Homo sapiens: one gene and its partners. The protein of the gene in region 3 interacts with the protein of the main gene of each other region in a biochemical or structural test. Each region holds a gene or a part of one and is shown on either strand. Other genes may lie near its edges.

Region 1 (4,158 bases), on a different chromosome or scaffold from region 3:
TGTGTTTTCAATGAAATGGATGTCTGAGGAGAAAACCATTAGCCTGAGAAAACCCAAACTGTATTCCCATTGTGAATAAAAGGAAGTCCATAAAAATGATGGAAAATGTTCTGCATTCCTGTTATGATATCAAAATCTGGCAGTACATGAAAATTTTTCAAAGTGCTTATTTAACAGGCATAATCTTTGGTCTCCTGAGCCAGAATCTGCTGGGTATGGGACTGGATTGCTATTTTGACAACTCGCCAGTAGATTCTTACTCAGCAGAGTATTTGGAAGCCTTACTCTAATATTTTGGCCTTGGGTCTACATTTCTCAGTTCTGCACAGTCATTCTTCCCCTCTACACTACTCTTTAGTTTGTCTCATGATTCCAATACTCTCAATAATTAACCAAGAATAGAACTAATCAATCAGATAACTGTGGCACAGACATCAAATACATTTTGCTGCAACCATATCAACAAATGTCCCATGAATGATAAGGGGTAACCATATTCTCATATATGCATCCTCACATTACCACATATATATATGTGCATATGTGTATACAGGTAAAAGTGTGTATATATGTATACATGTATGTTTGTGTGTATATACATACATATATCTTCACACTTTTCTGAAATATATATATTTATGTGAGAGAAGGGTCTGTACTTTATTTCAGAAGAGAGCTTAATGTCCAAGGTATAATTGAGAGTCTAAAATGTTTGAGTTATTGAATTAATTAAACTTCATCTCTACTCAAGAAAACTTTTAACTGAGTTAAGCTCTTCCTTTCTCCACAAGTCAAGTCAATAAAAGGAAACTGTGATATTAATAATTCTTTCCTGTTTTGATGTAAAGAATCTATCGCATAAAGCAGTCTTAATTTTCATCATTCAGAAAAATGGTCTTGCAGTTAATTGGGACTCTCTTATTCCAGGTGGTATCTCCAGTCTCCATACATACCACGTTAGAACCATACTTATGTACCAAGCAAAGAGGGTATATTTTAATTTTTAAATGCCAATGTAACCTGTAGGCATATTTTTTATTTGTCTTAAATTATTTCCTATTTGGAAGTTTTAAATACCTGGAATAATTTATTGTACTCATATTTTTAAAGAAAAAAATCTTATGCCACCAACTTAATTGAATAAACAAGTAAAAGCCATTCCCAAAAGTAAGGTTTACTTGTTAAGATTAACAAAAAATAATGTGAGAATTCTGAGAAATATAATCTTTAAATATTGGCAACTGGAGTGAACTCTTAAAACTAACTAGGTTTTATATGTTTGACTAGAGCAATGACATAATAAGGTGGTTAATCATCACTGGACTTGTTTTCAAAAAGCCAACTACTTTAAGAGGAATAAAGGGTGGACTTGTTGCAGTTGCTGTAGGATTCTAAATCCAGGTAAGAACCATTGAGATTCTCTAATTTTTACATATATTTTATGTAAGAAATTTTCACGGAAGAAGATTTTGATGGTCTTGAAAAATATTACGAATTTTATGCTCTGTGTCTTCCACACGCTTACATTCTGAGCCCTTAAAACATAGTAAATATTCCTTCTGGGAGTAGAAGAGCCTCAGGTTTATATACTGTTAAAAATAAAGTAGAGAAAATAATACCTTTATATATTTAAATATAAAGTTTCAAATCTTGGTCTTATTAATTTCCAAACAAATAAAAATCAAGTCTCAAAAATGAAGCTCTAGTTACCTTCTTAAAATATGCTACAGGATAATTATTTTTGTCAACTACATTGACTGATCACACTAGACTCCTTATTTCTTTGATGTCTTCTTAACTGGATGAAGGCAGCCAAGGGTGGGAGTAGAGGGAAGAGTTAATTGGCAAACATAAAAAACAGGTGTCTCAAAGTCACATAACCACCTCAGTTTCCTTGTTTCAACTCAAGTTTGATACAGGGTGAAGGGAAATATATTTTCTAGATAATTTATCTCCAATTAAATAAGCAAAAAGTCTTCTCAGTACAGTTTTTTTCTTTTTTTATTTCATTATTATTATACTTTAAGTTTTAGGGTACATGTGCACAACATGCAGGTTTGTTACATATGTATACATGTGCCATGTTGGTGTGCTGCACCCATTAACTCATCATTTAACATTGGGCATATCTCCTAATGCTATCCCTCCCCTCTCCCCCACCCCACAACAGTCCCCGGTGTGTGATGTTCCCTTTCCTGTGTCCATGTGTTCTCATTGTTCAGTTCCCACCTATGAGTGAGAACATGCGGTGTTTGGTTTTTTGTCCTTGCGATAGTTTGTTGAGAATGATGGTTTCCAGTTTCATCCATGTCCCTACAAAGGACATAAACTCATCATTTTTATGGCTGCATAGTATTCCATGGTGTATGTGTGCCACATTTTCTTAATCCACTCTATCGTTGTTGGACATTTAGGTTGGTTCCAAGTCTTTGCTACTGTGAATAGTGCCGCTATAAACATACGTGTGCATGTGTCTTTATAGCAGCATGATTTATAATCCCTTGGGTATATATCCACTTATGGGATGGCTGGGTCAAATGGTATTTCCAGTTCTAGATCCCTGAGGAATCGCCACACTGTCTTCCACAATGGTTGAACTAGTTTACAGTCCCACCAACAGTGTAAAAGTGTTCCTATTTCTCCACATCCTCTCCAGCACCTGTTGTTTCCTGACTTTTTAATGATCGCTATTCTAACTGGTGTGAGATAGTATCTCATTGTGGTTTTGATTTGCATTTCTCTGATGGCCAGTGATGATGAGCATTTTTTCACGTGTTTTTTGGCTGCATAAATGTCTTCTGTTGAGAAGTGTCTGTTCATGTCCTTCACCCACTTCTTGATGGGGTCGTTTGTCTTTTGTAAATTTGTTTGAGTTCATTGTAGATTTTGGGTATTAGCCTTTTGTCAGATGAGTAGGTTGCAAAAATTTTCTCCCATTCTGTAGGTTGCCTGTTCACTCTGATGGTAGTTTCTTTTGCTGTGCAGAAGCTCTTTAGTTTAATTATATCTCATTTGTCATTTTTGGCTTTTGTTGCCATTGCTTTTGGTGTTTTAGACATGAAGTCCTTGCCCATGCCTATGTCCTGAATGGTATTGCCTAGGTTTTCTTCTAGGGTTTTTATGGTTTTAGGTCTAACATTTAAGTCTTTAATCCATCTTGAATTAATTTTTGTGTAAGGTGTAAGGAAGGGATCCAGTTTCAGCTTTCTACATATGGCTTGCCAGTTTTCCCAGCATCATTTATTAAATAGGGAATCCTTTCCCCATTGCTTGTTTTTCTCAGGTTTGTCAAAGATCAGATAGTTGTAGATATGCGGCACTATTTCTGAGGGCTCTGTTCTGTTCCATTGGTCTATATCTCTGTTTTGGTACCAGTACCATGCTGTTTTGGTTACTGTAGCCTTGTAGTATAGTTTGAAGTCAGGTAGGGTGATGCCTCCAGCTTTGTTCTTTTCGCTTAGGATTGACTTGGTATGCGGGCTCTTTTTTGGTTCCATATGAACTTTAAAGTAGTTTTTTCCAATTCTGTGAAGAAAGTCATTGGTAGCTTGATGGGGATGGCATTGAATCTATAAATTACCTTGGACAGTATGGCCATTTTCATGATATTGATTCTTCCTGCCCATGAGCATGGAATGTTCTTCTATTTGTTCGTATCCTCTTTTATTTCATTGAGCAGTGGTTTGTAGTTCTCCTTGAAGAGGTCCTTCACATCCCTTGTAAGTTGGATTCCTAGGTATTTTATTCTCTTTGAAGCAATTGTGAATGGGAGTTCACTCATGATTTGGCTCTCTGTTTGTCTGTTATTGGTGTATAAGAATGCTTGTGATTTTTATACATTGATTTTGTATTCTGAGACTTTGCTGAAGTTGCTTATCAACTTGAGGAAATTTTGGGCTGAGATGATGGGGTTTTCTAGATATACAATCATGTGATCTGCAAACAGGGACAATTTGACTTCCTCTTTTCCTAATTGAATACCCTTTATTTTCTTCTCCTGCCTGATTGCCCTGGCCAGAACTTCCAACATTATGTTGAATAGGAGCAGTGAGAGAGGGCATCCCTGTCTTGTGCCCGTTTTCAAAGGGAATGCTTCCAGTTTTTGCCCATTCAGTATCATATTGGCTGCAGGTTTGTCATAGATAGCTCTTATTATTT
Region 2 (3,500 bases), on a different chromosome or scaffold from region 3:
GTGTGCAGCTTACTGGGACCTGGCTTGCAGACCCCTGGCCCTCTGTCCATACTGTGCATGCAGAGACCCACGTTGCTTTTGGGGTCTGGGGTGGGCCTGAGAGGGTGGGGAGGAGATTGTCCTTGTAACCTCTGCCCACCCTGCCCAGCCAGTTTCTTCTTTCTACAGGGACGGTGCCTTCAGAGCCCCCCAGTGCCTGTGCCTCAGACCCGTGCGCTCCAGGGACCGAGTGCCAGGCTACCGAGAGTGGTGGCTATACCTGTGGGCCCATGGAGCCCCGGGGCTGTGCCACCCAGCCATGCCACCACGGCGCTCTGTGTGTGCCCCAGGGTCCAGATCCCACCGGCTTCCGCTGCTACTGCGTGCCGGGTTTCCAGGGCCCACGCTGCGAGCTGGACATCGATGAGTGTGCATCCCGGCCGTGCCACCATGGGGCCACCTGCCGCAACCTGGCCGATCGCTACGAGTGCCATTGCCCCCTTGGCTATGCAGGTAACAGCCTGGGCCGCCCTGGGAGGAGGTCTGTAATGCAGATCGCATCAGCTGCTCAGAGTGTAAGCATCATGGCTTCAGCTTTGCCTTTCGTGTAGGGACGCCCCCAGGCATCCGGGCAGCTCTAGGGTATATCCACTTGGTCTGACTACAGAACTGATGCCTGGCAGCTCTGGGTGAGAGTATGTATGTGCGGGTGCTGGCGTGGTGTGTGGCGCATCTCAGGCACTCGGTAAATGTGATTTCAGTCCAGCCTAGAGTTCAGTTTGGCTGCGGGGGTGGAATACCCCTCATTCATCTCTGGCAGTGTGAACCTGCCTGGCGTGACTTTAGTGAGGATGCCCAGATAGTCTTTCTAGCACTTCAGGCCTGTGCCAAGCTGTCATGTAGACACTGTCTACACGACAGTCACCATCAGCTCATTTGAACACTCCTGATGTGGTCTGGAGTGCAATGTGGACCCCTGGCCTCTGGGTCTCCCCCAGAGTTCTAGCATAGACATACAAGGTCTCGTTCAAACTGTAGTGTTGACATACCCCAGGGATCGCTGCTGTCTGGAGTGGGATAATATATACGTAAGTGCTCAGAAAAGTGACTGGCACTAAGGGTACCTTCTCCAGAGTGTGGCCCGTCCCAGGCCCACCCATGGTCTGAGCCGAGAACATCCTGGAGCGGCTTCCCAGAGAGGCCTGAAGTCGGGAAGGAGGGCGCAGCTGGGGACAGAAGGGGCGCAGTCTGGGAGCGAAGCTGAGTCCAGGGCAGAGTCTGAGTCTGCAGTGTAGATGCTCTGGATCCTACTTCAATCCTGAATTCAGACAACTGTACTCTGAGGGCAGAGGGCAGTTTGAAGTCACTTCAGAGCAAGAGGTACAGATTGGGGGGCTGGGTTCCAGGGCAGGGGGCCTACAGCGAAGAGATGGCAGCTGATGAAGAGAGATTTGGGAAGCTGGTTCCATGCATCTTTCTCATCGTTCCAGTGTCTCAGCGTCTGGGTGTATTAGTGTACATGCCAGTGCAGGTCACATTCGTCCATGTGTCTCCTAGTTCCAAGTTCTGTTTTGCATCTGTAAAGATCTGCCAGTACCTGGGGGTGTCTGCAGTCTGAGTGCATGTGTGGGCAGTGGGTTGTTCGGGCAGTGGGTTGTGTGGGCAGTGGGTTGTGCGGGCAGTGGGTTGTGCGGGCAGTGGGTTGTGCATCCGGATGTGTAGCACTCACACACTTCGGGTGACTCTTCCTGGGTAAGCTGTGGATGTGAGTGGGGGCAGCATCTGCCGTGACTCATTCTCTCCTCTTTCCATTCCAAGCCGGGTGGGGGAGTTTGGGATTTCCAGACAAGGCCTGGCTCCCCCTGGCACAGAGGGTGGGAGTGGGGATGGGGAGGGAGGAGGGAAGGGTCATGGGAAGGTGGGGCCATGTTTTGTGCTCAATGAACTGAGAAGGGGGAGGGTTCCAGCTGGAGTCAGCTGGGCCTCTGGCCCCCGCTTGACCAAACCCACTTAGGGGGCAGGGCCTGCTGGAGTCTACAGTGACACGTGAGTCCAGGATGATCTCAGGCAGCGTATCTGAAACCCTGGGACTCCCCATCTCCCTTCCTCTTCACCATCACCCTGGGAGAGCCACTCAGCTGTCGTGATTCGCCCAGGACTGCGAGGGTTCTGGGGACTTGGTACTTTCAGTTCTAAAACCAGGACAGTGCAGGGACACTGGGAGGAGTGATTACCCTACTCAAGCATCTCCTGCCTCTCTGGGATCTGAAAGCCACCAGAGTGGACCTTCTAAAAAGTAGGTAGGGCCAGGTGTGGTGGCTCACGCCTGTAATCCCAGCACTTCGGGAGGCTGAGGTGGGTGGATCACTTGAGGCCAGGAGTTGGAGACCAACCTGGCCAACATGGTGAAACGCCTTTTCTACAAAAAAATACAAAAATTAGCCGGGTGAGGTGGCATGCACCTGTAATCCCAGCTACTCTGCAATCTGAGGCACAAGAATCACTTGAACCCAGTGGGCAGAGATTGCAGTGGGCTAAGATTGCAGCACTGCACTCCAGCCTGGGCGACAGAGTGAGACTCTGTCTCAAAAAAATAAAAAACAAAAACAAACCCAAAACAACTAACTAAAATGTAGGTGGGACCAAGTCACTTACCTGTCTGAAACTTTCAGGATGGACCCAGAGGTTACCTGGTCCCCAAGGCACTGACACCTCCCACCCGACTCACCTCCGCCACCCTCTCCCTTGCTTCCAACCCTCCAATAACCCCGCCTAGGGCATCATGGCCCTGCCCCTAGTGGAACTTGCCTCTTGCTGCAGTCTCTTTGGAATCCAACTGCTGCCCACAGTCCCCTATCTGAATCCTTCAAAAGCCTCTTCTTCTAGGAAGCCTTCCCTGAACAGAGCAGACCCCGGCTATTGCTTTCCCAAGACCCAACCCCTTTCCTTGTTGAACTTGGCAACATCACCTAGCTCATTTAGGTAATTACTGGCTGAATCACCCCCCACCATGTCCTGGCCTAGACTGCTGTGAGCCCCATGAAGGCAGGGCTGTCTGTCTCGTTTCTCTCCCTGCGGTTGCTGGCATGACCCGTCCCCCACCCCCCAACCACCACCACCACCATCCGGCTCTGAATGAATGAATCCACGAGTCTCTAACTCTGGAGCAGGCCTGGCGCGACCTCTTCCGCCCTGCTCTGGGTGTCCATCCTGCACCCTGTGTGTCCCCTGCCCTGTCCAGGCGTGACCTGCGAGATGGAGGTGGACGAGTGCGCCTCAGCGCCCTGCCTGCACGGGGGCTCGTGCCTGGACGGCGTGGGCTCCTTCCGCTGTGTGTGCGCGCCAGGCTACGGGGGCACCCGTTGCCAGCTGGACCTCGACGAGTGCCAGAGCCAGCCGTGCGCACATGGGGGCACGTGCCACGACCTGGTCAACGGGTGAGCGAGCGGCGGGGCAGGCGGCAGGGGCGCCGGGTGCCCGAGGGCGGGGAGGCCAGGCGCGGGGCAGAAGGGGCAGGCGCG
Region 3 (3,500 bases):
AACTCCTCAAGAGGCTGAGGCGGGAGGATCACTTGAGCCCAGGAGTTCAAGGCTGCAGTGAGCTATTTCGAACCACTGCACTCTAGCCTATAAGCAACAGAGTAAGACCCTGTCTTAAAAAAGAAAAAGAAAGAAGGCAGATGCCTGATTCTGAGGAAGTCCCCGAGTTAGCAAGTGGTTATTGGATAAATGATCAAGTGCAACGCGTTGTACCAGCGTTGGCACAGCTGGGAAGACAGTTGCTCTGCAGCTCAGAAGGCAGGAGCCCTGGGAGGCCCTCCTGTGATCTCAGGGCTTGCTGGGTGCGCGAGACGCTCCATGACTGTGGCTCTGGGCCCTAGAGAAACCCCTCCACCCTTTGAGTTAATGGTGTTCAGTGGCTCCCAGCTGGGACCCCTGGTGACCATTCCAAGGTGAGCTGGCGTCCAGCCTGTCCTGAGGCCGAGCAGTGCTCCTGCTCACCAGATCTGGCCTTTAGTCATGCTTGGAAGGCAGGGCCGCTCAAGGTCTTCCTGCACTGTGCCCAGAGAGGGAAAGGAGAGTGGCCTGGGACACAGAGCCAGTCTGTCCTAGGACCCTCTCTCCAGCTTGCACCTGGAACCTCGGTGCTGGCTGAAGAGGAATCCTCATACTCCATCCCTCCTCCAGGGCCCAGGACCCTGTCCGGCGTCTCATGGCCCAGCGAGCGACTCTTGCCCTCCCCCTGCTACCACCCGCTGTGTTCGGGGGGTCTGGCCTCCCCCAGCAGCTCTGAGTCCCACCCCTACGCCAGCCTGGACAGCAGCAGGGCACCCTCCCCACAGCCAGGCCCCGGGCCCATCTGCCCCGACAGCCCCCCAAGCCCGGACCCCACCCGCCCGCCCAGCCGCAGGAAGCTCTTCACCTTCTCCCACCCTGTGCGAAGCCGCGATACTGACCGCTTCCTGGACGTGCTGAGCGAGCAGCTGGGCCCCCGGGTCACCATCGTGGATGATTTCCTGACCCCGGAGAACGACTACGAGGAGGTGGGCACGCAAGCAGGTGTGGAGGGAGGCGGGTGAGGCGAGGTGTGGCGGTCTGCAAGGCAACAGTGTTCCTGGGCTCCCGCAAGGGGCCTGCTGCCCTTGGGATCTTCCCCAGGCTATCCCACTCCCTAGCTCAAGCTATCCCACCCCTTGCCCCAGGTTACCCTATCTCCTGTTCAAGGTTATCATGCTCCTTGACTGAGGCTAGCCCATATTCCCTGTCGCAGGTTAGCCCATTCCTTAGCTCAGGCTATCCCACTCACAGCCTGAGGCTAACCCGTGACAGGGTCCTGTCCTTATTCCAGGCTATCCCCCTCACAGCCTGAGGCTTACCCATGAGAGGGTCCTATCCTTAGCCCAGGCTATCCCCCTCACAGCCTGAGGTTAACCTGTGAGACAGTCCTATCCTTAGCCCAGGTGTCCCTCACAGCCTGAGGCTAACCCGTGAGATGGCCCTGTCCTTGTCCCAGGCTATCCCATGATCCTTCACTTTGCACCTGCTCTAGTCTCTCTGGGCCCAGCCTCACCCTCCCCTTGCCTCTCTCCCCACCACCAGATGAGCTTCCATGATGACCAGGGCAGCTTCGTAACCAATGAGCGGAGCAGCGCCAGCGACTGCATCAGCAGCAGTGAAGAAGGCAGCTCCCTGACCTACTCCTCCATCTCTGACCACATCCCCCCACCCCCGCTCAGCCCCCCACCACCGCCACCCCTGCCTTTCCATGACGCTAAGCCCAGCTCCCGCAGCTCTGATGGTTCCCGGGGCCCTGCTCAGGCGCTGGCCAAGCCCCTCACCCAACTCAGCCACCCAGTCCCTCCACCACCCCCACCGCCCCTGCCCCCACCCGTGCCCTGTGCACCCCCCATGCTGTCCCGGGGCCTGGGCCACCGGCGCAGTGAGACCAGCCACATGAGCGTCAAGCGCTTGCGGTGGGAACAGGTGGAGAACTCAGAAGGCACCATCTGGGGTCAGGTAGGTGACCTGGGACCCAGCAGCGCTCTGTACTGGGGGAGGATGGCTTGGGCAGCAGCACTGAAGGAAAACCCATCGGCCAGGCATCTTCCAACATCATCCTCCCTACCCCAAGCAGAGGATGAGTAGAGGCCCAGCCCAAGAACGTCCCCACGCTTGGGGGCCACTGCAGGCATTGAAGCCAATCTGTGTCCCTCAGCCAAAGACACACACTGGGGACACCTGGAAATGCCACCCTACCCATCCTTGAAACCTATCACTTTTGAGGCCAGACAAGTTCTCTTAAACCTTTAAAAGAGCAGCTGGTTCAAACTCCTGCACACCAGCCTTCACCCTTTCACTTTGATGCTTGAAGTTCCTCCCTCACAACACTGGCAGTGTATGCTTGAACACCTTCAGTGGTGGGGAACTCACTACCTGTCAAGGTCTTCCTTTCCTCACTGGACGATTTTAACCATCCTTTGTCTTGCTCTGAAATCTTGTCTCCCCAGGATTCCCATGCCCTGTTTTCTTTCTGGCCCTTAAAATCGGGCAGAGCAATCTTATCCACAGACCAACCAATCTGCAAGATGAACAAGGTTCACCCCACCCCTTTTTTTTTTTTTCAGATCATTCTCTTAGAACATGGTTTCCAACCCCCACTCCAGTGTCCATGTCCCTGTCAAAGAGACATTCCCAGATGGAACCCCCAATGGGGCTTGACCAGCTCAGAGGAGAGAACAGGGTTCTCAGCTCCTTTGACTGGGACATCATACTCCTTTTAATATGGCAGGGGCTCCTTCCAGCTCCCAGGGCTGCCCCGTCCCAGTGCTCATGATCACCATCATCCTCAACTCCATCTTCTTGGGATCAATAGCTCACTCTCACATGTAGTCACACTGGGCAGAGGCATGCTTGTGATTTTTCCCCACTGCCATCTCCTGGGTCCCAATTCTGTCTCCTGCTTTCTCAGCCCACATCTCCAGGGACCCTTTCCAAGTTGCTAATAAAGATGCCCATTGAGGCCAGGCTTGGTGGTTCACGCCTGTAATCCCAGCACTTTGGGAGGCTGAGGCGGGAGGACTGCTTGAGCCTAAGAGTTCAAGACAAGTCTGGGCAACATAGTGAGATCTTGTCTCTACAAAAAAATCAAAAAGTTAGCCAGACCTGGTGGTGCATGCCTGTGGTCCCAGCTACTCGGGAGGCTGAAGAGGGAGAATCACTTGATTCCCACAGGTGGAGGTTGCAGTGAGCCAAGATGGCACCACTGCACTCCAGCCTGGGGTACAGAGTGAGACCCTATCTAAAAAAAAAAAAAAAAAAATACCTCAGTGAGACAAGGGCACAAATAAGGACCTCCTGGGTCCCCTGGAGACCTCACTCCTGCCAGCCTTGGACCGATCTTCAAGTATTGCTCCACAGCGTGGTTCTTCCATTGGTTACCAAAGGTGGACACAGGGACACAGGTCACACATGTGGCCAAACCCAAATCCATCCTCAGTGTCCCTGCCCTGCAGCCATGTTCTAAGACTTCATTCCCCTGC
Region 4 (4,125 bases), on a different chromosome or scaffold from region 3:
GGGTTATAATGAATGTTCCCAGGACACAGATTCTCTGGGCCACTGAAGCAGGGCCACTTCCTCCTCAGATACTTTCTATAGCTCCCAATTGCCTTTAAGAAAAAGTCCATGTGCCTAACCTGGCATACAAGTTCCTTGTGACTGGGCCCCATCAACTTCTTTGGCTTAACTTCCCAAGATGTTGCCCAGTGACCCCCGCTCCTCCAACGGTACTGGGCAGCTCACTAGCTCCACAGACATGCAGGTGTAGTCACTTTTCTAAGCATTTGCAGTGCTATCTCCTTCCCTGGCCATGCTCACCCTGTGTGGGATTGGTGGAAGGGAAGAGAAACCACAAGGGCAATGGCACGGAGAGGAAGAGCTCTGGTACCAGGCAGACCTGGGGGCTGGCCTCCACTCTGCTGTTTACTTTGGGGTGAGCTTGGACCTTGCTTGCCCCCTCTGAGCATCAGTTTCTCACCTATTGAAAAGGGGAAGGACATTTCACTGAGTTCTCTTAAAGCCAGTGATGCAGTGCTGGAATTTGAACCTGGGACTGCTGGTTCTTTCCCTCGCCCCACCTGTCTGCCCTAGAATGGCTTACATTTGAACACAGTTGGGCTGGAGAGAGGAAGAGCAACACCGGAAACAAGGAGGGATGAACCTCAAAGAGAAGGTCATCAAACAGCATATGGGAGAGGTTACCCCCAGCTGGAAGAATCTGGAACGGCTTCCTGGAGGAGTTGGCATTTGGAAGAGTTGGAAAACAGGGCAAATGTCACCAGAATGGGATGTGGGCAGGGGCTTCCTGAGCAAAGGTGAACAGGTGGGAAGATGAAATCTCTGAGTCAGACTGTGTGTGTGTGAATGGCTGCCCCAGCACTTGCAGGGAAACTGCTGCCTAAGGGGTATGTGGTGAGTGGGTGGAGGGGCTCTGCTGGAGCCGGATCTGAACTTCACTCCTCTCTGGTGTCTGCCCTGACTGGGACAGCTTCCCCTCTCCCTTGGGGACTCTTCCCAGGCTGCAGGCTCTGTGTCCTACCCCACCCACATTCCCACACCCCTCAGAGTAGTGTGGTGAGCCTGGCCACAGCCCAGAATGGGTCTCGGGAAGCAAGGCTAGAGATGGCACCCAATGGCCCACCAGGCAGATGCTGGGGTCAGCTTCCTGCTGTCTGTGTGGAAGGTCAGTGGGCACCTGGAGAATATTCCAGAGCTGGGCCCTGCAGGGGTCAGAAAAATAGTACTGGGGGGACTTGTGGGGAGGTGTAGTGCAGCCAAAGTCTCTAGTTAGTTCCCACACTCCCCGCTCTCCATCCCTCCCATCCATACTGAGCCAAGGCTGATGGGGAATTTGGTTTGTCAATGGCCCATTCACACCGCCCCCCCAACCATCCCACCCAAATCTGACCTCATTCTCATCTGTCCTGTGAGGTGCCCCGAGAGGAGGCATCCATCCCACCCTTCCTGCCGTACTGCAGTCCCCAAGCCATGGCTGCGTTCTCCTGGAGTCCCTGCAGCTGCTCCTCAGCTGGGTCTGTCTCCATGGCCTATGAAGCTCTCCCTGCTGGGCTTCTGGGAGCAAGTGGGGCCTTGCCCAAATGGCTGTGAGGCTCACACAGCCCAGGGGAGGATCAACAGCTGGGAAAGAGGCCAAAGGTGACTGCTATAGGGCGTCTAACCTGGAGTACTCCCAGTAGAAAGATCCTTTGTTTCTTCTACCCATACTGCCTTCCCAGAAAGTGTTGGGCCAGGTGCTCTGTTCCCAGAAACACTGCCCTCGCTACAAGGCGATTCCTTGTCACCCTGCAGGCAGAGCTTCAAGACCTTTTTCCTCCAGCCTCCTCCCCACTCTATAGTAAGAGACCTCACTGCACAGAGACCCATGCAGGTCTCTGCAGGTCACTCTCAATCTCCTGGTCTTCTGGGTGGATCTTCTGATGCTGCCTGCAGGTCTGTCTGTAGCTCTCCGTCACCTGTCCCCGTCTGATTCTCTTTCCTGCTCTGTCTCCTGCCTCTTTGTCTCTCCCAGTCTCTGCTGCAGCCCTCTCTCCCGGTTTGACCTCCCTACCTTTCCCTGCATTCTCTCGCTGATACCTGTTGATATTGTGTTCTCCGACCTCCTGTGTGCCTCTTCGTTTGAGCCTGCCTGTCTGCACTGTCTGACTACACTTTTCTCTTTTTCTCTGCTCTGTCTGTCTCTATCTTTGTCTCCTTTGAGAGGGGAAACGGCTTGAAGAGGGGGTCAGGGGCCTGTCTTTCTGTTGTCCTCTAAGTCTCGGTCTCATCAACGAGGTTTGGCTGGGTTCCCTGGCTCCAGCTGAGTAAATCGTGTCCCTTCCTGCTCCTCCAGTCATTCACTCATTCATTTAACACACCTTCACTGAACTCCGGCCATGTGCCTGGCTCTGTGCCAACAGCTGTGAGCACCCATCCCACCCACTCTGGCTCTACGGCCTCACCCTTTTCTCTGGGAACATGTCCCCCAGGCTTGCTCTCCATGGCCCTTCCTTAATTTGTTCGGACTTACCTATCCTGGGTCCCATGACTGCTGGAGTGCAGTGAGCTCCAGCCCCTAATTTAATCTCAGGACCTGGAGCTTAGCAGGGGAGAGGAAGCAAATCTTCTCAGGGGCTCCTGGAGACAGCAGCAGGTGAGCCACAGCAGGGATGCAATAACGGTGGGAGCTCCAGACACGGGGTCAGTTCTTCTTGGGCCACACAGGACATCAGACTTGTCCAGACACAGGTTAGGGAGTCTTGCTCAAACTCAGCCCCAAGTATCTCCAAGTGTTTGTCTCCCTGGGTCACTTGCTCCTTCTGTCTCTCCCTTGCCCTGGCTCCACGGTTGTATAGAAGGCTGGGTTTGTTCAAGTCCAGCCTCTCTGTGAAGAGGAAGCTGCACCCCGCCTCCCTGAGGCTCAGCCTCAGCCTGTCCTTTTCCAGCCTCTTGCCTCAGCATTTCCCTTAGGTATTTTCCCCTGCTCTGTTAGCAGCAGAGAGGTGGGGGCACAGGGGGGATGCTGATGGGTCTCCCCAAGCTCCCCAACCTTCCACATTCATCCCCCAGTCTCCTCACTGCACTCCCATTTCCCACCTGAGCCCTTCTCCTACCAAGCTCTTGTTCCCTTCACAGAACTTTTGTTGCCCTCCCTTGATAGGAGGGCCCCATAGAGAGCCCTTGTTCCCCCATCTAGCAGTTGTCCTCTTTCACTGAACCCCTGTCCCCCTCAAGCCCACGTGCCCTCTCACTAAATCCCTCATCTTCTCCCTGAGCTCCAAGGATCCACAGCAAGAAGGGGCTCTGTCCACTAAGTATCCAGTGGCAGCCTGCCTGGGTGGAGCTCATGGTAGAAGGTCCATCAATTTCAGCCATCTAGGCAAAGGAGGAGGGGAAGAGAATGGAAAATATGAAATTCTCAGAGTTTCCTGGACTGAGGACTGAGGATGGAGGTTCAGGAGCCAGAGAGATCTGGGTCCCACCTCAGTTGTTATTTGCTGGTCAAGTGATCTCAGGCAAGTCCCAGCATCTCCCTGAGCGTCCATTCTCTCATCTATAAAGAAGGGACAGTAATCCCTTGCAGAGCCACTGTGAAGGTTCGGTGAAGGACAGAGAAGCCAAGCCTGCAGGCCTGGAGCTCAGAGAAGGGAGTGGCAGAGGTGGGGCTCCGAACAGGGCAGCAAGGGAAAGCAAATCCACTTTGCCTTTCCCAGCTTGCACAGCACTTTCACACACAAGGCCCCACTGGGTCCTCCCCTTGACACTGTAACATCAGGTTATTTATTCCCTGATTTTACAAATGAGGCATGGAGTCTCAGTAACTTGCCAGAGATCACCCAGCTAGTAGGTGGTGGGTGCCTTGAACCTCTAATGATAGAACCAGGCTTTTCCCTCCACCCAGGATATCTTCTCTGAGGAAGATCTGGGTTTCCCCAAATCCAAGATGCAGAAGTGAACCTGACCCTGTCTCTGGAATAAAGTCTTTGCGTGGAATGAGGATGTGGGTTTGGAGTCTAACTTTCAGGGTGCAATAACAGAGAAACATACACCAGCTCCACTTGGCTCCTATTTGCTGTATGAGGGTGCTAGTAGGATGTAGGGAATGTGTGAAATAATCACAGATCTCCCTGGCACTCAGGAGGCACT
Region 5 (3,500 bases), on a different chromosome or scaffold from region 3:
CGAGACCAGCTTGGCTAACATGGTGAAACCCTGTCTGCATTAAAAATACAAAAATTAGTCGGGCATGGTGGCACACGCTTGTAATCCCAGCTATTTGGGAGGCTGAGGCAGGAGGATAACTTGAACCTGGGAGGCAGAGGTTGCAGTAAGCCAAGATCTCACCACTGCACTCCAACCTGGGTGACAGAAGTGAGACTCTGTCTCACACACAAAAAACAAAACCCTAGGCCCAGATGGCATCACTTCCCAATTCAACCAAATATCTAAAGAAGAAATGACACCAATTCTACACAATCTCTTCTAGAAAATGGAAATAAGAGTAAAAATAAAAACTTCCCAATTCGTTTTATAAGGCCAGCATTACCCAATTTTAAGACTTACTATACAGTAATTAAGACCATGTGGTATTAACAAAGGAATAGACACACACATCATGAAACAGAAAAAGGAGTCCAAAAACAGGCCTAGACAAATATGGCAAAAGTACAAAGGCAATTCAATGGAGTAAAGGTTGTCTTTTCAACAAATGGTATTAGAACAACTAGACATCCATATGTAAAAATAAACAAAAAACAAAAAATCTGACGTAACCCTCATACTTATACGACATTAACTCAAAAAAGATATATATCTAAACGTAAAGTGTAAAACCATAATACTTTTTTTTTTTTTTTGAGATGGAGTCTCACTGTGTTGCCCAGGCTGGAGTGCAGTGGCGCGATCTCGGCTCACTGCAAGCTCCACCTCCCGGGTTCACACTATTCTCCTGCCTCAACCTCTCAAGTAGCTGGGACTACAGGTGCCCGCCACCACGCCCGGCTAATTTTTTTTTTTTTTTGTATTTTTAGTAGAGATGGGGTTTCACCGCATTAGCCAGGATGGTCTCGATCTCCTGACCTCGTAATCTGCCCACCTCAGCTTCTCAAAGTGCTGAGATTACAGGCATAAGCCATGGCACCTGGCCAACCACAATACTTTTAAAAGGAAACATATGAGAAAATCTTCATGACCTTTGCTTAGGCAAAGGGCTCTTAGGTGTGACTCTGAAGGCACAATCCATACAAGAAAAAAATGACAAGTTGAATGTAAATTTAAAAAAAAAAAGTCCTGATTGGGCACAGTGGCTCACGCCTGTAATCCCAGCACTTTGGGAGGCCGAGGCAGGTGGATCACTTGAGGTCAAGAGTTTGAGACCAGCCTGGCCAACATGGTGAAACCCCATTTCTACTAAAAATACAAAAAAATCAGCCGGGTGTGGTGGTGCGTGCCTATAATCCCAGCTACTAGGGAGGCTAAGGCAGGAGAACTGCTTGAACCCAGGAGGCGGAGGTTGCAGTGAGCCGAGATTGCCTCACTGCACTCCAGCTCGGGCGACAGAGCAAGACGCTGTCTCAAAAAAAAAAATAAGAAAAAAAAAGAGAAAAGGCAAAGCTATTGAGACGGAGAAAGATCAGCGGTTGCCAAGTGTTGGGATAGAGGTGGGGCTTGACTTCAAAGGTGAAGGAACTAACTGTTCTTTACCCTTATAGTGGTGACAGTTACAGGAATCTATGTATGTGTTAAAACTGATACAAGTATACATTTTAAAAAGGTCAAACTTACTATATATAATATTTGAAGATAATGAAAAAGGGAAAAATGTAACTAATGCTCTTTTAATAACTCCACTGCTATTTCTATTTTTATTGAAAATTACCACTAAAGCAAAGACAGTTTCTAAAAACAATAAATGTATTACAATTACAGAAACATAATCCTAGCACTTTGGGAGGCTGAGGTGGGCAGATCACAAAGTCAGGAGTTCAAGACCAGCCTGGCCAACATGGCGAAACCCCATCTCTTCTAAAAATACAAAAATCAGCCAGGCATGGTGGTGGGCACCTGTAATCCCAGCTACTCAGGGGGCTGAGGCAAGAGAATCGCTTGAACCCGGGAGGTGGAGGTTGCAGTGAGCTGAGAGTACGTCATTGCACTCCAGCCTGGGTGACAGAGTGAGACTCCATCTCAAAAAAAAAACAATTACAGAAACAGACTTTGGACTTCCATTTCCAGAAACAGGTTAGAAACTCTTCCCAATACTGAATTCTCTCAAAATGTTTTTTAAAAAGGTGAGTTTGTGTTAAACTAAGGAAAATAGTGGGAGGCAGAAACAAATACAGGCAGTGCCCTTATCTTAAACATTTGGGGCCAGTAGTATTCTGGAATTCAGAATTTTGGAGTTTTACAGGGACAACACATTAAGTTTAACAGAGAGCATATTAATACTCCAGCACCATCTGGGACAATACCCCATAATCAAACACCATATTTCTACAGTAAGTATAAACCTGTACTCATACAGGATCAGTACGAGCACCCAAGACAAAAATTCAGTTTTAAGTGGTACCAGAAGGGTAGTGACCCAGGCCCCAGGTGCATGGCAAAAGAAAATGCAAAACACCTGAAGTAACTTAATTTATACAGAGTACACAGAGAATTCCCACAGACAAAAGTCCAAGAAACATGTTCACGGCCAAAAATCACTAAAATCACAAGCCACCAACAGTCTGAATCCGAAGAAACAAAGAAATGCTGAGTCAGGTCCACAAAAAACTGTAGATAGCAGAATTATCAGACAAATATACATTTAATAAAACTAAATAAATAAAAGATGGGATCAAAAGTGGGAATGAAGGGTGAAAGGAATAAGAAACTACAAAAAATGATCCATAGAAATAAAAAATTCAATAACTTTTTTTCTTTGTTTGAGCTGGGGTCTTGCTGTGTTGCCCAGGTTGGTCTCAAAACTCCTGGGCTCAAGCAATCTTCTCACCTTAAGCTTCCTGAGTAGCTGGGAGTACAAGTGTGTGCCACTTCTCCCAGCTTACAGTAACTTTGCGATGAAAATAACATGCCGTCAGGTGTGGTGATTCATGCCTGTAATCCCAGCACTTTGGGAGGCCGAGGCAGGTGGGTCACTTGAGGTCAGGAGTTCAAGATCAGCCTGACCAACATGGTGAAACCCCGTCTCTACTAAAATATAAAAATTAGCCAGGAGTGGTGGCGGGCGCCTGTAATCCCAGCTCCTCGGGAGCCTGGTTGAGGGAAGGAAGGAGGGAGGGAGGGAGGAAGGAAATAACATGCTGAAAACTTGATTCAGTAGCAGATTAGACCTCATTTTAGTTCACTGAGAATGAGTGAACTAAAAGATCTGAAGAAATCACTTAGCCCTTTAAGACACAAAGAACATTTAAGATGAAAAAGAACATGAAGGCTGTCTAATCAAAATCCCAGGTGATAATTAAGAGTATATAATTTCTAAACTAATAGAGAAGAAAAAAAAACAGGTGCTCTTGTCAAAATGCTTCTAGGTCCACATTTACTGTACAACCTAGAGGAAGTTACCTAACCTTTCTAAGCCCTGGTTTTCTCATGTGTAAATAAGATAATCAGTCCGGGCGCGGTGGCTCATGCCTGTAATCCCAGCACTTTGGGAGGCCGAGGCAGGCGGATCACAAAGT
Region 6 (3,247 bases), on a different chromosome or scaffold from region 3:
CGCCGCACCCGCCAGGTCACCAGATACCGCAATGGAGACGCCTATACCACCACCCAGGTGAGGAGCTGGTGGGGAGTGCAGGACATTCAACATGGGAGGTGGCACTTACGTGCTGCCTCACTCCCTCCCCACCTCCCTGGGGGGAAGGTGGGAGGAGCAAAAGGCAGCAGTGAGCTCCCATGAGCATTGCAACAGCAGGGCAATAGCAACAACCATAATCATAACAGCAAAAACCGACCAGGAGCCAGGCTCTGCTCTAAGTATTTTACACACATCAAATCATTTATTTAACCCTCATAACAACCCTATGATGTAGGCAGGTATTCCCATTTTGCAGATGAGGAAACTGAGGCCTGGAGAGTTTAAGTAATGTGTCTAAGGTCAAATAGGCAGTATGTGGTGGAGATGAGACTTGAACTCAATCAATCTGGCTCCAGGATCTCTATACTGTTTAGTGCTTAATGGATCTACTTAGTGATTAATGGCAGAGTGTGGTGGCTCAGGCCTGTAACCTCAGCACTTTGGTGAGGCAGAAGGATCTCTTGAGCCAGGAGTTTGAGACCAGCCCACCCGGCAGCAACATAGTAAGACCCCATCTCTATAAATAATAAAAAGAAGTAGCTGGTGTGGTGGTATGCACCTGTAGTCCCGGCTACTCAGGAAACTGAGGTGGGAGAATCGCTTGAGCCTGGGCAGTTGAGGCTGTAGTGAGCTGTGATTGCCACAGTGCAAGACCCCATCTCAAAAAAAAAAATAAAAATAAAAATAGTGCTTAATGGCTGGAGATGGCTTCACATGCCCAGTATCATAGCATGCTCTTACCTGTTCAGTGAGGTGACTGCTACTGAGTTCTTTCACAGGTATGGACACCTAAACTCAGTGACTTGTCCAAAGTCTGCTGCTCTTAAGTGGTAGTGCTAGGCTCAATCCCAGCTTCCTGGATGTCAAGTTCAAGGGTCTAAGAGGAGGTGGGCGTAGGAAGTCTCACTGAGGGTGGGCAGGTCAATCAGCACTTTGTGGACTCGCCAGGATGAGACATATTGGGGTCCTGGAGGAGACGTTCCCAGATGCAGGCCATCTGTCTCAGTATAAGGATCAATAGACAGAAGCCTGGGGCGGGTGAGAAGCAGGAAGGAGGCTGATGATAGCTACAGCGTGAACAGGCAGACTAGAGATAGAGGGGTTCTTTAGGGAGTGCTTCTGGGGAACCCATTGGGAAACACAATTGTAAAAGGGAAGAAAGAAGAAGAGGAGGCTGTTTGTGGTGATGTGGGGGCACTTTGGAAAACAGAGGCAGTGGCAAATGGATCAGGCAGGCCAGAGGGGCAGTTCATGGCCAGGGCCTGACCCCTAGAGGAAGCAGGGCTTAGTTAAAATTTAAATGCGCGGCCGGGGGCGGTGGCTCATGCCTGTAGTCCCAGCACTTTGGGAGGCCGAGGCGGGTGGATCACGAGGTCAAGAGATCGAGACCATTCTGGCCAACATAGTGAAACCCCGTCTCTACTAAAAACACAAAAAATTAGCCTGGCGTGGTAGTGGGCGCCTGTAGTCCCAGCTACTCGGGAGGCTGAGGCGGGAGCATGGCATGAACCCGGGAGGCGGAGCTTGCAGTGAGCCGAGATGGCGCCACTGCACTCCAGCCTGGGCGACAGAGCCAGACTCCATCTCAAAAAAAAAAAAAAAAAAAGAAAAAGAAAAAGAAAAAAAATTTAAATGCGCACAGGTAGGGCTGGTTCTAGTCCGGTCATCACGTCTGATTACACAGAGGGCGTCAGTTGCCCTGTAAGTCAGACGGAAAGATCCTAACCAGCTCCAGCCGGCACCTAAACCAAGACAGACTTAGGGTCCGACCAGGCAACCAGAGCACAGATGGGGCGGGAAAGGGTGAGTGGGCAGAAGCGGGCACCAATGACGGGCTCCCCGCGACCCCGCCGCCTGCCCCCCGCGCCGCAGGTCTACCACGAACGCGTCAACACGCACGTGGCGGAGGCTGAGTTCGACTACGCGCGCTGCGGCGTTCGCGACGTGTCCAAGACGCTGGTGGGGCTGGAGGGCGCGCCGGCCACGCGGCTGCGCTTCACCAAGTGCTTCAGTTTCGCCAGCGTGGAGGCCGAGAACGCGTACCTGTGCCAGCGCGCGCGCTTCTTCGCAGAGAACGAGGGCCTAGACGACTACATGGAGGCACGCGAGGGCATGCACCTCAAGAACGTGGACTTCCGTGAGTTCATGGTGGCCTTCCCGGACCCGGCCCGGCCGCCCTGGTACGCCTGCTCGTCGGCCTTCTGGGCCGCGGCGCTGCTCACGCTGTCGTGGCCGCTGCGAGTGCTGGCCGAGTACCGCACGGCCTACGCGCACTACCACGTGGAGAAGCTATTTGGCCTGGAGGGCCCGGGCTCGGCCAGCAGCGCAGGCGGTGGCCTCAGCCCCAGCGATGAGCTGCTGCCCCCGCTCACCCACCGCCTGCCGCGGGTCAACACAGTAGACAGCACGGAGCTCGAGTGGCACATCCGCTCCAACCAGCAGCTGGTGCCCAGCTACTCTGAGGCGGTGCTCATGGACCTGGCGGGGCTCGGGACGCGCTGCGGCGGGGCAGGCGGCGGCTACGCGCCCTCGTGCCGCTACGGTGGGGTAGGCGGCCCGGGCGCGGCGGGCGTGGCTCCCTACCGGCGCAGCTGCGAGCACTGCCAGCGCGCCGTCAGCAGCTCGTCTATCTTCTCGCGCAGCGCCCTAAGCATCTGCGCCAGCCCGCGGGCCGGCCCGGGGCCCGGTGGGGGCGCGGGCTGCGGGGGCAGCCGCTTCTCGCTGGGCCGTCTCTACGGCTCCCGGCGCAGCTGCCTGTGGCGCAGCCGCAGCGGGAGCGTCAACGAGGCCAGCTGCCCCACGGAGCAGACGCGGCTGTCCAGCCAGGCCAGCATGGGGGACGACGAGGACGACGACGAGGAGGAGGCCGGGCCGCCGCCGCCCTACCACGACGCCCTCTACTTTCCGGTCCTCATCGTCCACCGGCAGGAGGGGTGTCTGGGCCACAGCCACCGGCCGCTGCACCGCCACGGCTCCTGCGTAGAGACCTCACTGTGACCTCCGGCCCCGGAGTGGCCCGCGCCGTCCTCCCGCCTGCCCCTCGCCGGACTGTGCTCCCTCTGCGACGCAGGGCGAGTCACCACGGTGACTGAGGCCGCGCGGGGGGCAGGGAAAGGGAGGTGAGGGCCGCAAGACAGGCCCGGATGGGGCCGAGACCCCCGCTGTC
Region 7 (3,500 bases), on a different chromosome or scaffold from region 3:
AGAGTGAGACTCTGTCTCAAAAACAACAACAACAACAAAGAAAAACCTTCAGATCCAAGTTTCTTCCTTTGTAAAAATCATTATGGTGACTGCAATACATGGTATTCAAATGCAGGTACCCCTTTTTGTTGGTGCAGTTTCATGATTTCAGAGTTTAGTATTTAAAGTCTGAGCTACTTACGCTTTGATATATATGTTGCATGAAAAAGGGTCAGATGATCATGGCATTCCTTTCCCTAGACCATTTTCAAGTTATCTCCTGATTATTTTGATTCCTATTTCTTGAGTTGCCAGTGATGGTAAACATTTTCAAGAAAGTTATCTATTATTTGTATTTTCCCCAGAGCTAGTTTAAGTTCCAGTAAACTCTCAGAAGGTTTAGAAGGGCAGGGAGGGAGAAGTTAAGGAAAACAGTGGGAGAGGCTGACAGGAAAATTAAGGGAAGAGGACAGAGGTCCCCAGGCTGAAGTCTCAACCCCTTCCTCCTGCTGGATTTCTGTGGCCCCATCCCCAGTTTTCCCCTGGGGCAGGATCCATCCTTTATCCTCAGAGTCCTCCTCCTTGGGGATAAATGACCATAACTAGGACCTGCTTCACCATCATCCTACCTGGAGCAACCCAAGCCAGAAAAATACCCTTTCCCTCTCCCTGGAGGAACAGCATCTGGGAACCAGGCATACAGCAGGAAATTGACAGTATTTCCCTGATTTTTGGGGTGCACTTCGCTCCCATCCTGAATGGCAGTGATAGTCTGTCTGTTGGGATGTTGGGAGGACATGAGTCAGCTAACATGAGTCAAGGGGCTGTACAGGGCCGGCTCTGGTCAGCCATTAGGGATGGAGTAGAATGGAAATGGTATTAGAAGTAGAAAAGGAGCCAGGTGTGGTGGCTCATGCCTGTAATTCCTGCACTTTGGGAGGTTGAGGCGGGCGGATCACCTGACGTCAGGAGTTCGAGACCAGCCTGGCCAACATGGTGAAACCCCATCTGTACTGAAAATACAAAAATTAGCCGGGCGTGATAGCACATGCCTGTAATCCCAGCTACTCGGGAGACTGAGGCAGGAGAATTGCTTGTACCCGGGAGGCGGAGGTTGCAGTGAGCCACGGTTGCACCACAGCACTCCAGCCTGGGTGACAGAGTGAGACTCCACCAAAAAAAAAAAAAAAAAAAAAAAGAAGAAGAAGAAGAAGTAGAAAAGGAAGGAAGAAGTCGAAAGAATGCTGATCACAGGGAGTGTGGCCTGGGCTTGGTTGTTGGAGAAGGAGCTGGCTGAGTGGAGGGGTCAGTCCATCAGGTGGAAAAGTGGAGAGATGAGGGGCCCCGCATGATGTGAGCCCAGATTCCAGATGGCCTCAATGTCGAGTGGAGCCCCAGAGAATAGGAGGGGGCTATTTTTATTCTTATTCTTTTTATTTATTTATTTTTTAAACATAGAGACAGGGTCTTACTATGTTGACCCGGCTGGTTTCGAACTCCTGAGCTCAATCAATCCTCCTGTCTCGGCCTCCCAAAGCGCTGAGATTACAGGTGTGAGCCACTGTGCCCAGCCCAGGGGCTATTTTTAAATGTAGGTTTTATTCTTATTCAGGTATGGTGAGGCCAACAGATCAGGAGGTGGCTACTGCTGGAAAGACAGTTTGTTCCTCACAGATCCCATGAGGAGGGTGCGGTCCACGCCATTCCGGGCCTGCGGGGAAGCCCCAGGGTTGGTCAGGAAGCAGAGGCATGAAGGGGAAGTGTGAGGATGAACCTTTACTGTGGTTCCCACAGAAAGGAATGGGTGAGGCAGAGCGAGCAGGTTTAGGAGTAGCTGGTGTGAATAATTTCCTCAGGGTCGGGGACCACAGGGGCTGTGCCAGCTGTCTGGCCCCTGGCCCCCAGGGTGTTAGGGCAGGTGATGCTGGCCTTGCGTGTGAAAGCTCAGCAAAGGAAGACCTGGGGTGTGGGCCTGCATTGTTGGTTTGCAGATGAAAGAGGCACTCACTCCCAGACAGCGGTTTGTTTGCTATCAGTGGGGTGGGAAGGGCAGTCCCTCCAGGGCCATAAAGGTCCCAAGATGTCAAAGCATCAAACACAGAAACTAGAAAATGTGGTTATTCTAGTGGGTAGCAAGGGGTGCAGGGAGCCAAGATCCAGGAGGTCTGGAAATGAATGACCAGAACAAGGAAGGGTGGTGGTGAAGAGCATGAATGTCTGACCCATGTCAAATCAGCGGCCTGCATCCCACATGCAGGCAGCAGGGGTAAGAAAGGGGCACCTAAAAGGTGACGCACGGTGGCTCACGCCTGTAATCCCAGCACTTTGGGAGGCCGAGGCAGGAGGATCACTTGAGGCCAGGAGTTCGAGACCAGCCTGGCCAACATGGTGAAACCTCGTCTCTACGAGAAATACAAAACTTAGCCGGGCATGGTGGCAGGTGCCTGTAATCCCAGCTACTTGGGAGCTGAGGTAGGAGAATCACTTGAACCTGGGAGGCAGAGGTTGCAGTGAGCTGAGATCGCACCACTGCACTCCAGCCTGGGCAGCAAGAGCAAAACTCCGTTTAAAAAAAAAGAAAGAAAGACAAAAGAAAGAAAGGGGCACCTAAGAGGGGCCCACAAAAGGAAGTGGAGGCTCGGCCCAAGAACCGTGGGCGCCAGGCCAAGGCGGCTTCTCACTGTCCCCCTTCCCCTCCAGGCTGTCCTTGTGGAGCGGCTGGGACGGCGGCACCTCCTGCTGGCCGGCTACGGCATCTGCGGCTCTGCCTGCCTGGTGCTGACGGTGGTGCTCCTATTCCAGGTCTGACCTCATTTCCTGCCCCCTGGGTGGGGAGTCATGGGGAGGGTGGGAGGTCCCCTGACTGAACCGGGCCCGCTGCACCAAGTGGTTGGTTCTGAGTCCCACTGATGGCATGCATCCTGCCTGGAAAAGTACTTTGCAATGCCCCATCCTGAAGTGAATGTCACAGATGGCTTCATTTACCTACACCTGCACATGCAAATAAGTAACCGGATAGATGGTCCAGCTGTCATGGGAAAGAGAAACAAGGAGGACAGTTTGCAATAAAATATGTGCTTCAATGCGTAAATGCAAGGATGCCACCGCATTAGAAAACATCTATGGGCGGTGAACAGGTGTGGGTTAAGGAAAGACCAGAAGTCACCCCATTCGAGAGGTAGAAGGAGGCTGAGCACAGTGGCTCACTCCTGCAATCCTAGCACTTTGGGAGGCCAAGGCAGGAGGACCCATTGAGCCCAGGAGCTCAAGACCAGTCTGAACAACATGGTGAGACCCCATCTCTACAAAAAATACAAAACGTTTTCTGGGTGTGGTGGTGTGCACCTGTAGTCCCAGCTACTCAGGAAGCTGAGGTGGGAGGATCACCTGAGCCTGGGAGGTCAAGGCTGCAGTGAGCCATGATCGCACCATTGTACTCCAGCCTGGGGGACAGTGAGACCCTGTCTCAAAAAAGAAAAAACAAAACAAAACTACGAATCATTTTTCAGTAAGACTAAAAC

What was found.
Region 1: the proteins of GRID2IP (region 3) and SLCO1B1 interact in a test that uses a peptide from one of them, tested with the Homo sapiens proteins (one large-scale study listed by IntAct).
Region 2: the proteins of GRID2IP (region 3) and CRB2 interact in a test that uses a peptide from one of them, tested with the Homo sapiens proteins (one large-scale study listed by IntAct).
Region 4: the proteins of GRID2IP (region 3) and SLCO2B1 interact in a test that uses a peptide from one of them, tested with the Homo sapiens proteins (one large-scale study listed by IntAct).
Region 5: the proteins of GRID2IP (region 3) and AKAP10 interact in a test that uses a peptide from one of them, tested with the Homo sapiens proteins (one large-scale study listed by IntAct).
Region 6: the proteins of GRID2IP (region 3) and TMEM151B interact in a test that uses a peptide from one of them, tested with the Homo sapiens proteins (one large-scale study listed by IntAct).
Region 7: the proteins of GRID2IP (region 3) and SLC2A7 interact in a test that uses a peptide from one of them, tested with the Homo sapiens proteins (one large-scale study listed by IntAct).

What each region holds. Positions count from the first base shown.
Region 1 is NC_000012.12:21,129,836-21,133,993, forward strand, and holds the start of SLCO1B1 (solute carrier organic anion transporter family member 1B1), read left to right. Parts: upstream 1-1,358; 5' UTR 1,359-1,401; intron 1,402-4,158. UniProt on the Homo sapiens protein: Mediates the Na(+)-independent uptake of organic anions.
Region 2 is NC_000009.12:123,362,697-123,366,196, forward strand, and holds part of CRB2 (protein crumbs homolog 2 precursor), read left to right. Parts: intron 1-168; coding exon 169-492; intron 493-3,220; coding exon 3,221-3,416; intron 3,417-3,500. UniProt on the Homo sapiens protein: Apical polarity protein that plays a central role during the epithelial-to-mesenchymal transition (EMT) at gastrulation, when newly specified mesodermal cells move inside the embryo.
Region 3 is NC_000007.14:6,506,462-6,509,961, reverse strand, and holds part of GRID2IP (delphilin), read left to right. Parts: intron 1-648; coding exon 649-1,004; exon of another isoform or gene 1,005-1,056; intron 1,057-1,560; coding exon 1,561-1,977; intron 1,978-3,500.
Region 4 is NC_000011.10:75,149,782-75,153,906, reverse strand, and holds the start of SLCO2B1 (solute carrier organic anion transporter family member 2B1), read right to left. Parts: upstream 2,801-4,125; 5' UTR 2,526-2,800; coding exon 2,510-2,525; intron 1-2,509. UniProt on the Homo sapiens protein: Mediates the Na(+)-independent transport of steroid sulfate conjugates and other specific organic anions.
Region 5 is NC_000017.11:19,953,829-19,957,328, forward strand, and holds part of AKAP10 (A-kinase anchor protein 10, mitochondrial isoform 1 precursor), read right to left. Parts: intron 1-3,500. UniProt on the Homo sapiens protein: Differentially targeted protein that binds to type I and II regulatory subunits of protein kinase A and anchors them to the mitochondria or the plasma membrane.
Region 6 is NC_000006.12:44,273,450-44,276,696, forward strand, and holds part of TMEM151B (transmembrane protein 151B), read left to right. Parts: coding exon 1-57; intron 58-1,953; coding exon 1,954-3,078; 3' UTR 3,079-3,247.
Region 7 is NC_000001.11:9,009,424-9,012,923, reverse strand, and holds part of SLC2A7 (solute carrier family 2, facilitated glucose transporter member 7), read left to right. Parts: intron 1-2,679; coding exon 2,680-2,781; intron 2,782-3,500. UniProt on the Homo sapiens protein: Probable sugar transporter. Even if its physiological substrate is subject to discussion, it is able to transport glucose and fructose. Does not transport galactose, 2-deoxy-d-glucose and xylose.